Linked DNA regions of Homo sapiens: region 1 is linked to region 2. The links come from fine-mapping of genetic effects on gene expression. Tissue or cell type: pituitary. Region 2 holds a variant in brackets; the other region holds the start of a gene. All regions are shown on one strand. Distances are from middle to middle. Region 1 holds the start of SLFNL1-AS1 (SLFNL1 antisense RNA 1). Region 2 overlaps SCMH1 (Scm polycomb group protein homolog 1).

The links. PIP is the estimated chance that this variant, and not a neighbour inherited with it, causes the effect.
Region 1: SLFNL1-AS1 starts here. The variant in region 2 is the best candidate, but not a certain one, in a credible set for the expression of SLFNL1-AS1 in pituitary (GTEx, PIP 0.78).

What each region holds. Positions count from the first base shown.
Region 1 is chr1:41,012,719-41,017,081 of GRCh38, forward strand. SLFNL1-AS1 (SLFNL1 antisense RNA 1) reads left to right here and starts at 1,872. Exons shown (of 4, transcript NR_037868.1): 1 at 1,872-4,363. SLFNL1 (schlafen like 1) reads right to left here. Exons shown (of 6, transcript NM_144990.4): 6 at 2,879-3,510. The coding sequence ends at 3,388.
Region 2 is chr1:41,076,701-41,081,097 of GRCh38, forward strand. The region is part of intron 8 of SCMH1 (Scm polycomb group protein homolog 1); the gene reads right to left. Among named protein-coding and RNA genes, the nearest start is that of SLFNL1, 57 kb to the left of the region's middle. The variant G/T (reference allele first, on the strand shown) is at 1,907.

The sequences.
Region 1 (4,363 bases), 64 kb before region 2:
TTAAAAACTAAGAAATGAGGCTTTCTTTTTAATAGGAACCAGAATTTTTCATAAAGCTTCAAATACAGGTTCTCAGCATGTAGAGCGAGATGAAAAGGTGCATGGGTGCTATTATGGTGCTATTTATGACTGAGAAAGGGGAGGGATAAGCATGATTTAGGAAGGTGGTCCTTTCCTCTGCCAGGCACTGGACGTGGGTACCCCATATACACAGCCAGTGAGCAGTGGGCCAGACTGTCTTCACCAGCAGAACTGCTTGTTATGGTACTTTGAACGTGGCTGATTGAGCATAATTCTAACCTCTTCTCCCACCTGGTGGTACCAGGAGATTGTCTTCATTTTAAATTTTATTTATTTATTTATTTATTTTTTTGAGTCAGGGTCTCACTCTGTTGCCCAGGCTGGAGTGCAGTGGCACAAGCACGGCTTGCTGCAGACCTCCTGGGCTCATAAGATCCTCCCACCTCAGCCTTCCAAGTAGCTGGGACTACAGGTTCACATCACCACGCCCAGCTAATTAAATTTTTTTTTTTTTTAATAGACAGGGTCTCGCTGTGTTGGCCAGGCTGGTCTTGAACGCCTGGCCTCAGGCGATCCTCCCATAGTGCAGGGATTATAGGCATGAGCCATTGCACCTGGTCAATAGTCTTTTTTTTGAGATGGAGTCTCACACTGTTGCCTGGGCTGGAGTACAGTGGCGTGATCTTGGCTCACTGCCACCTCCACCTCGCAGGTTCAAGTGATTCTGTTTGCCTCACCTTCCCAAGTAGCTGGGATTACAGGTGCCTGCCACCACGCCCATCTAATTGTTTTGTATTTTTAGTAGAGATGGGGTTTCACTATGTTGGCTAGGCTGGCCGTGATCTGCTCATCTCAGCGTCCCAAAGTGCTGGGATTACAGGCGTGAGCCACCACGTCTGGCCCGTTTTTTTTCAAACATTCCCCAAACTGAGGGTCTGACACGCCCGTTGTTGACATCATGGTCCCCCACAATGGCTGGGTGTGTGGGTGGTGTGAAAAAGCCTCCCAGTAATTAAGTTCCTGCCCCTATGTTTAAGATCACTTTGGCTGATCACTTGTCAAGTGCTGGCCACATAATGTAAGGTTTCTGAAAAAAGAGATCCCAGATGGCTCTCCAGAGCTTGCAAAGCTCGAGCAGCCCCGCCACGCTGGCTGTGGCAGACAGGATAGGGCTGAAGCTGGATTTACAGGAGGGCAACCTGTGCCCAGTGTTTACTGACCCGTCCCCGGAGGCTTCTCCCTCATGGGGAGGAAAGCTGGTCACATTCCTCGTTCCTTTCTTAATGTGACCTAACAATAGGCACAGCTATGTGTAACTTCCCTTCAGTAACTTCCTTCAGTCCAGGGAACTTCCCTTCAGTCCAGGGGATCTGGGCAGTTCTTAGCAGTCTGGAGCAGCTGGGCTGAAGCCTGACTTCACCCTTCCTTTGTAGAAATCTGCTCTTTTCCCCCGAAAAACATTTCCGAGGATTGTGGTGCCTGGACTAGCATTTAGCATGGTACCTGGACCGTGGAAGGTGCTCAGAAATGCCACTCCTCCTTCTTGAGTAACACATTTGTGTAGTTTTCAAACAGTCTTGGTGACCTTGGGGCAGCTCGGGGGGTGAGCAGCAGGAGTTTGGTAACCTGCCACCATATAGGTGTCTGTGATCACATTGGTCCCTAACCAGCATGAATGGCAGCCGAGGCAGGGGTTGTGTGCTCTTTGCTAAGTGGGAAAACCAGGTCTCAGAGCAGTTGTGATCACCCAGAAAATGTCACCTGGCTGGTGAGTGGAGGGGCTGGGGGTTCCAAAGTTCTCATCTGTGTCTGCTGTGGATGTGGCCAGGGTCTTCAAGTTTTAGGGGATCAACTGAAGTGTGTTCTGTGGAACACTAGTCCTGTGAAATGCCCTGTTCAACAAGGTTTGGTGATTTTCTGGTGGCTCAGACCCCAAATTTAGGAGTATCCTTAATTGTCTCACCAGCAGGTATTTATTGGGTGTCTACCATATGCCAGCCATACCCAAACCCCTGTCCCCCAGAGCAGTTATTCAGTGGGGGAAGCACCAAATATAAGCTACAGAGTGTGGTAGTTCATAGATGGAGACCAGGGGTGGAAGTGAGCAGGGGAGTGGCAGTGCTGGGAGGTGGTGTCTTTAAAATAGGGTGGGTGGGAAATTAAGCATGGACTTGAAGGTGAAGAGGAAAGGAAATAGGCCGCTATGTAGCGCAGAGGCCCCGAGGCAGGAGTGCAAATGAAACAAGTTGGTGGGCGTGGCTGAAGTGGCTTACATAAGGGGCGGAAGACATTGAGGTTGGGTGGGCTAGGTGGTGGAGAACCATGTAGGCCATCAAGTTTGGGCTTTGCTCTTGAAGAATTTGGAGGGCTATGGGTGCAGGTGTGGCGTGAGTGTGATCAGACTCTGGCTTTGCAGCCTCTGGCTCAGCTGGTGGAGACAGCAGGAGAAACGGCCAGAGGCAGGAAGCAGCTGGAGGAGTCTGGTTTTTTTTGTTTGTTTTAAGCTAACGGTCTTACTGGACCAGAGGGGTCTTGGAAAGGAACTGAGACCCTTAGTGTGAGGTGCTGCTCTGTGCCACAGCTGGCGTAGACACAGGGCACTGGCCCGATGGTGACAAAATGCCCCTGGCCATTGTCACTGTCTTATAGATGAAGAAACTGAAGCACAGAGGCATAGCACTTTGCCCCACGGTCCCTGGTCTTTAAGACAGAGCTGGACTGGAGTCTGAGGGGCTGGGCTCCCTGCCCTTGCAGGTCTGTCCTCTGCCTCCTGGACAGAGGTGGGCTGGGCCTGGGACTCATGACCCTGCAGCATCTGACCGGCTGACCCAGTGTCCTAGAAAGAACCATTCTTGTCCCAGGTGCATGTAATTTATTAATGGAGCTTTGACAGTCACAAGTTCCAGCAAGTCAGGGGTGGGGGCTGCAGGGTGGCCTCTTGCCCTGTAACCACAGTCATCAAATATGCCTCGCCATCTTTGAGGGGCTTTCCTGAGATGACAGATTCCTTTCTGGCACTGTGTAGCCAACTGGAGTCACAGACCTCAGCCTGGGCCAAATGAGCATTTTAGGGAGAAGGACAATCCCTTATAGCTTAGCCCTAGGGGAGCTCTGGGCAGGGTTTTACACATTCTTTCTGAAAGTAAGGTCATTTGGGGACAGGGCTGAGAGCAGTTTCTTGGCTACACAGATGGGTCTGTCAGGGTTGAAGCCACATGGGTGCCTGCTCATGTGCCATGTTGAAGGAGTCCCTGTCCGCCTCTCAGCAGCCCGCATGGGCTTTACTGGTTGGCCTTACACTCAAACAGGAAATCCCTGGGTCTCAGGTGGAGAGTGCCGTGCCGTCCTGCCTGCTCCCCAGGGCCCTCACAGGACACAGCAGGTGCAGGACACAGGCCCGTGCTGCTGCAGCTGCTGCTGGAGCTGCTCCTTCTCCATCATCAGCGCCTTCATCTTCTCTTCCAGCTTGCCCAGCTCCACCAGCCACCTCTGAGGGGACATGGGAAAAGCATGTGGCCAAGCCCGCCTGGTCTCGGGCCTGTCCGTCCTCCACCTGGGGCCAAACTGAGGGAGGAAGGCAAAGCCCAGGAGCCTGAGAGCTTTCTCAGCTAGGGGAAAAGTCAGGCCCCTCGGCCTGCTGCCACCTTCAACCGTGTCAGCCTGAGGGAAGCTGCCGGCTGCCAGCCATGGAAGGGAGCCTCCTCCGTGCTGGGCAGGCCATGTGCCTCCTCACTGTTGGTCCCTTGTCCTCCATTCTCTGTTTCCCTCTTGAAAAAGCTCTTCCTTGGGACTGTGTCTTGCCCCCTCTGCCGCTTTAGGGCCTCCCCTAAAATGCAGTGTATAGTCTTTGGGGTTTTCTGGTGACATCTCAACATTCCAGTCTCTCTGCTCCCTCACTCAAGATCGAGTGTGTTAACTGCCCAAGTAGAGGGTGAGGGGTTTCAGGCACCCCTGAAGGGAGGATACTGCATAGGATTTTTTTTTTTTTGAGATGGAGTCTCGGTCTGTCGCCCAGGCTGGAGTGCAGTGGCGCGATCTCGGCTCACTGCAACCTCCGCTTCCCAGATTCGATCGATTCTCCTGCCTCACCCTCTCGAGTATTTGGAACTACAGGCGCCCGCCACCATGCCCAGCTAATTTTTGTATTTTTAGTAGAGACGAGGGTTCACCATGTTGGCCAGGCTGGTCTCGAACTCCTGACCTTGTGATCTGTTCGCCTCATCCTCCCAAAGTGCTGGGATTACAGGCGTGAGCCACTGCGCCTGGCCACTGCATAGATTTTTAAAAGGAGAGAGCTTGGGCCTCTTCCTTCCCACCAGCCACCTACCCGCGGAGTATGGGA
Region 2 (4,397 bases):
GGGTATAACAACAAGTGCAAAGAGTCTGAGACAGGAACATGTTAGTGTGTTTGAGAAATTGGAAAGGAGGTCAGTAGAGCTGTAACTGAGTGAGCAAAGGGGAGGGTAGAGAGAAATTAGGTTAGAGAGTGAGTAGCAGTAAAATTGTGTAGGACTGCAGCCTGTGAAAATGAACTGAACTTATTCTAAATATAAAGGGAAGCCACTAGAGGGTTTTGAGCAGGGGAGGGACAAGATATACTTAGAAGGACCACTCTGACTGCTTTGTGAGAGGGACGAGAGTAGAATTAGGGAGACCAGTTAATAAACTATTATATAGGGCAGGTAGAAGATAATACTTCCTAGGCCTCCAGGTAGGAAGTGATAGTTGTGGTAGTACAATGTTAACGATGCAACAACTAGAAAAAGTCAGAGTAATTATTTAAAAAGACACCACAGAGCTGTCATGAGGAAGACACCACAGAGCTGTCATGAGGATTAGATGAACTGGAATTCCAAGGGGTGGCCTCTGAGGTAGCTGATACTGTTTTCTTTCCTGAGGGCATCTGCTAATTTTGGCATAAACTAAGGATCAGGCTTGGCATGTGGTGAGGGGCTCTACTGGAGGAAAGAGAAATGAGAGCTGCTGCGACAAACTGGAAACTTAAGGAGCCCCTGCATGTGGCCAGTTTTTCTCATTGGGTATCTGCTGAATTTTGGGCCAGCACATTGGAACTTCAAAGCTAGACTGAGAGCTTTTAAAAGGCAGAATAAAATCTCCTATAATCTTGTGGTTTTAGGAGATAAGGTTCCACTAGAAGTAGGTAGTATACCCCAAATACATGGCTGATCTCCTCTTAAAGATATTTTAAAACTATAAGGGGTGAGAGGTAATAAAACTAAGCCCCAGACCTCTCAAGGGTAGGACAATCTCCTGCAGTGTTTCAGGGCTAAGGAGCTAGAAATTAGGTTCCCAACCAAGAGCCCAAGAGGGTCCGTGTCCAAAAAACAAGCATAAACCATAGGCACAATCCAGATGTGGTCTAACTCAATCCAGAATTAGATTGAGGTGATCAGGCCCTATCCTATTTAGTCTAGCAGAGGAAAGGAAGAATTCTTTCTCATGGAAGATACCAGTTGGAGCCTCAATAGTTCTTTTAATATAAAACGTTTGGCATACTACAAAAATTATTAGACATAACAGAGTCAAAACAGTGTGATCAGTAATCAAGAGAAAATACAGGCAATAGAAAGAGACCCATATATTATCCAAATAATGGAACAAACAAACAGATTTTTTAAAAATCATAATTAAAATGTTAAAATGTAAAAAAGATGAACAAAATATAAGAAAAGGTAGATAGTACCCACAGAAATATCTATATAAAAAACTAAATGGACATCTTATAACTAAAAAATACAATATTAGGAATAACTCATTGCATGGGTTTAAGGACAGACAAGAGCCAATAGAAAGGATTAATAAACTTGATGAAAAAATAGAAAACATCCAAAATAAAGTACAGTGAGAAAATATGAAAAAATATATTAGAGCATTAGAGATTAAGTAGACACAGTCAATAGGTCCAAAATATGAGTGGCTGCAATCCCACAGGGAGAAGACAGATAGAATGAAGAAAAAGCAATATATGAAAAGGTAACAGCGGAGACTTAATCTCTAACTAATGAAAGACATCAACCCACAGATTCAGGATGCTTATGGATTCAGCAATCCATAGCAGGAAAAATACAAAGAAAACGATACCAAAACACATAATTGTCAAACTGCTGAAAATACAAAAGATGAAATACAGATGAAATAAAAGACAGGGAGGAAATACAAAGATATATTTTAAAAAGCAGTCAGAGAGAAAAACAGCATTACCGGAGCAACAATAAGAGTGATAGCAGGCTCTTTAATAAAACT[G/T]TGTAAGCAAGAAGAAGTAGAATAGTATCCTTAAAGGGCTAAAAGAAACAGACTACCAAAGATAGAATTATACACCCAGTGAAAATATCCTTCAGAAATAAAGGTAAAATAATGAGATTTTCAAATAATCAAAGTTGAGAGAATCTGTCACCAGCAGACCTAACTATGGAAAATGAAAAGGAAGTTCTTCAGGCTGAAGGACATTCCAAATGGAAACATGAAACTACAGGAAGGATGAAGAACACGAGAAAGGGTAAACATGTGAGTTGATACAAAAGGATACTGATTATTTAAAACAATAATAAAAATGGCTTGTGCCGTTTATAATATATGTATTAATAAGTTATGTGACAGTAATAGCACAGAGGATGAAAGTGGAGAGTAAATGGAGCCAAACTTTGTTAAGAATTTTGCATTATTTGGGAGTAGTTAGAGCACTTATTTAAGGTAGATTTTAATAAGTCCAATATGCATATTTGCATACGGCAATTAATTAAAGAATTATCAGGGATAAGAATGCATTACTAAAAAGCTAAGGGGAGAGAAGTAGAATAATAAAACATACTTGATTAATCCAAAAGAAGGCAAGAAAGGAGGAATAAAGAAATAAGGAAGAACTTGGACAAATAGAAAACAAAAAAGCAAAATGCAAAATGTTGACTTAAACCCAAATAAATAATTTTATTAAAGAAGGGTGGATTAAGTAAAACAGTCAGTAGGAATAAATGAACAAACCAGACCAAAAAAAACCCCCAGAACTCAATTATATTTGTTTATAAGAGGGCCCTGAGATACAAAGACACTCAAAATATAAAAACACAGGAAGAGAAAAGCAAACAGATGAAAATAATGTACTCTATAAACACTAACCAAAAGAAAACTAATAACATGAATAACCAATTAACCAACCAACCTAACTGATACATATACCTAATAAATATAGAATACGCAGAGACAATTTCATCATAGATCCATCAGACATTGGGTAGAGAACAGGACAGTATGAATAACTTTATGCCAATTAAATATGAAAATTGAGATAAAATGTCACTCAAGACCAGCCTGGGCAACACTGTGAGACCCCATCTCTACAAAAACAAATTAGTTGAGCATGGTGTGTGCCTGTAGCCCTAGCTACTCAAGAGGATCGCTTGAGCCCAGGTCGAGGTTGCAGTGAGCTATATCACACCACTGCACTTCAGCCTGGATTACAGGCTCTATCTCTTATCTCTAATGCTCTAAATTTTTTTTGTATTTTCTCACTGTACTTTATTTTGGATATTTTCTATTTTTTCATCAAGTTTATTACTCCTTTCTGTTGGCTCTTGTCTGCCCTTAAACCCATGCAATGAGTTATTCCTAATACTGTATTTTTTAGGTATAAGATGTCCATTTAATTTTTTATATAGATATTTCTGTGGGTACTATTTTTTCTTACACTTTGTTCATCTTTTTTACATTTTAACATTTTAATTATGATTTTTAAAAAATCTGTTTGTTTGTTCCATTATTTACATAATATATGAGTCTCTCTCTTAAAACACAAAACAAAGCAAAAATACCACTGACACAAGAAAAAAACAGAATATGAAGAGCCTCATACATAATAAAAAATTGCAATTGCAATTAAAAATCTTTCCACAAAGAAAATCCCAGGCCTAAACTGGCTTCACTGATGAATTCTAGCAAATATTTAAAGAAGAAATAATAACAAATCTTGCAAAGCCTCTTTTGAAAAATAGAAGAGGGAACACTTCCCATTTCATTTTATAAGGCCAGCATAACCCTCATACCAAAACATGACAAAGATAGTTACAAGAAAAAAAAACTATAGACTAATATCCCTCATGAACATACATCCAAAATCTTTAACAAAGTATTTGTAAATTAAATCTAGGTCTCTCTCTATATGTATATCAGATATACAATCCTATATATATCATATCATAACATGCAGGATAATATATCATAACTAAGTGGGATTTATTTCAGAAATACAAAGGTTAACAATGGAAAATACAATCCGCTGAACACATACATTCACTAAATGAAAGAGAAAACCTATATATCATCTCAACAGATGAAGAAAAAGCATTTGACAAAATTCAACATCCATTCATGATAAAAATTATCAATAAACTAGGAATAAAAGAGAATTTCCTTAGTCTAGATAAACGCATCTATAAAAAACCTATAATCAACAGCATTCTTAATGGTGAAATATTGAACACTTCTTATTGAATTATGGGATAAAACAAAATAACTACTATCACCACTTCTATTCGACATTGTATTGGAGGTCAATGCAATAAGGAAAGGAAAAGAAATAAAATCTATAAATACAGACTGTAAGGGAAGAAGCATTACTTGTACGTGACATGATTGTTTACATAAATATTCCTCCTTACAAGTCTACAAAATCTATTAAAATAAAAAAATGAATTTGGAAAGGTCACTAGATACAAATCTAATATTTAAAAATCTAATGTAT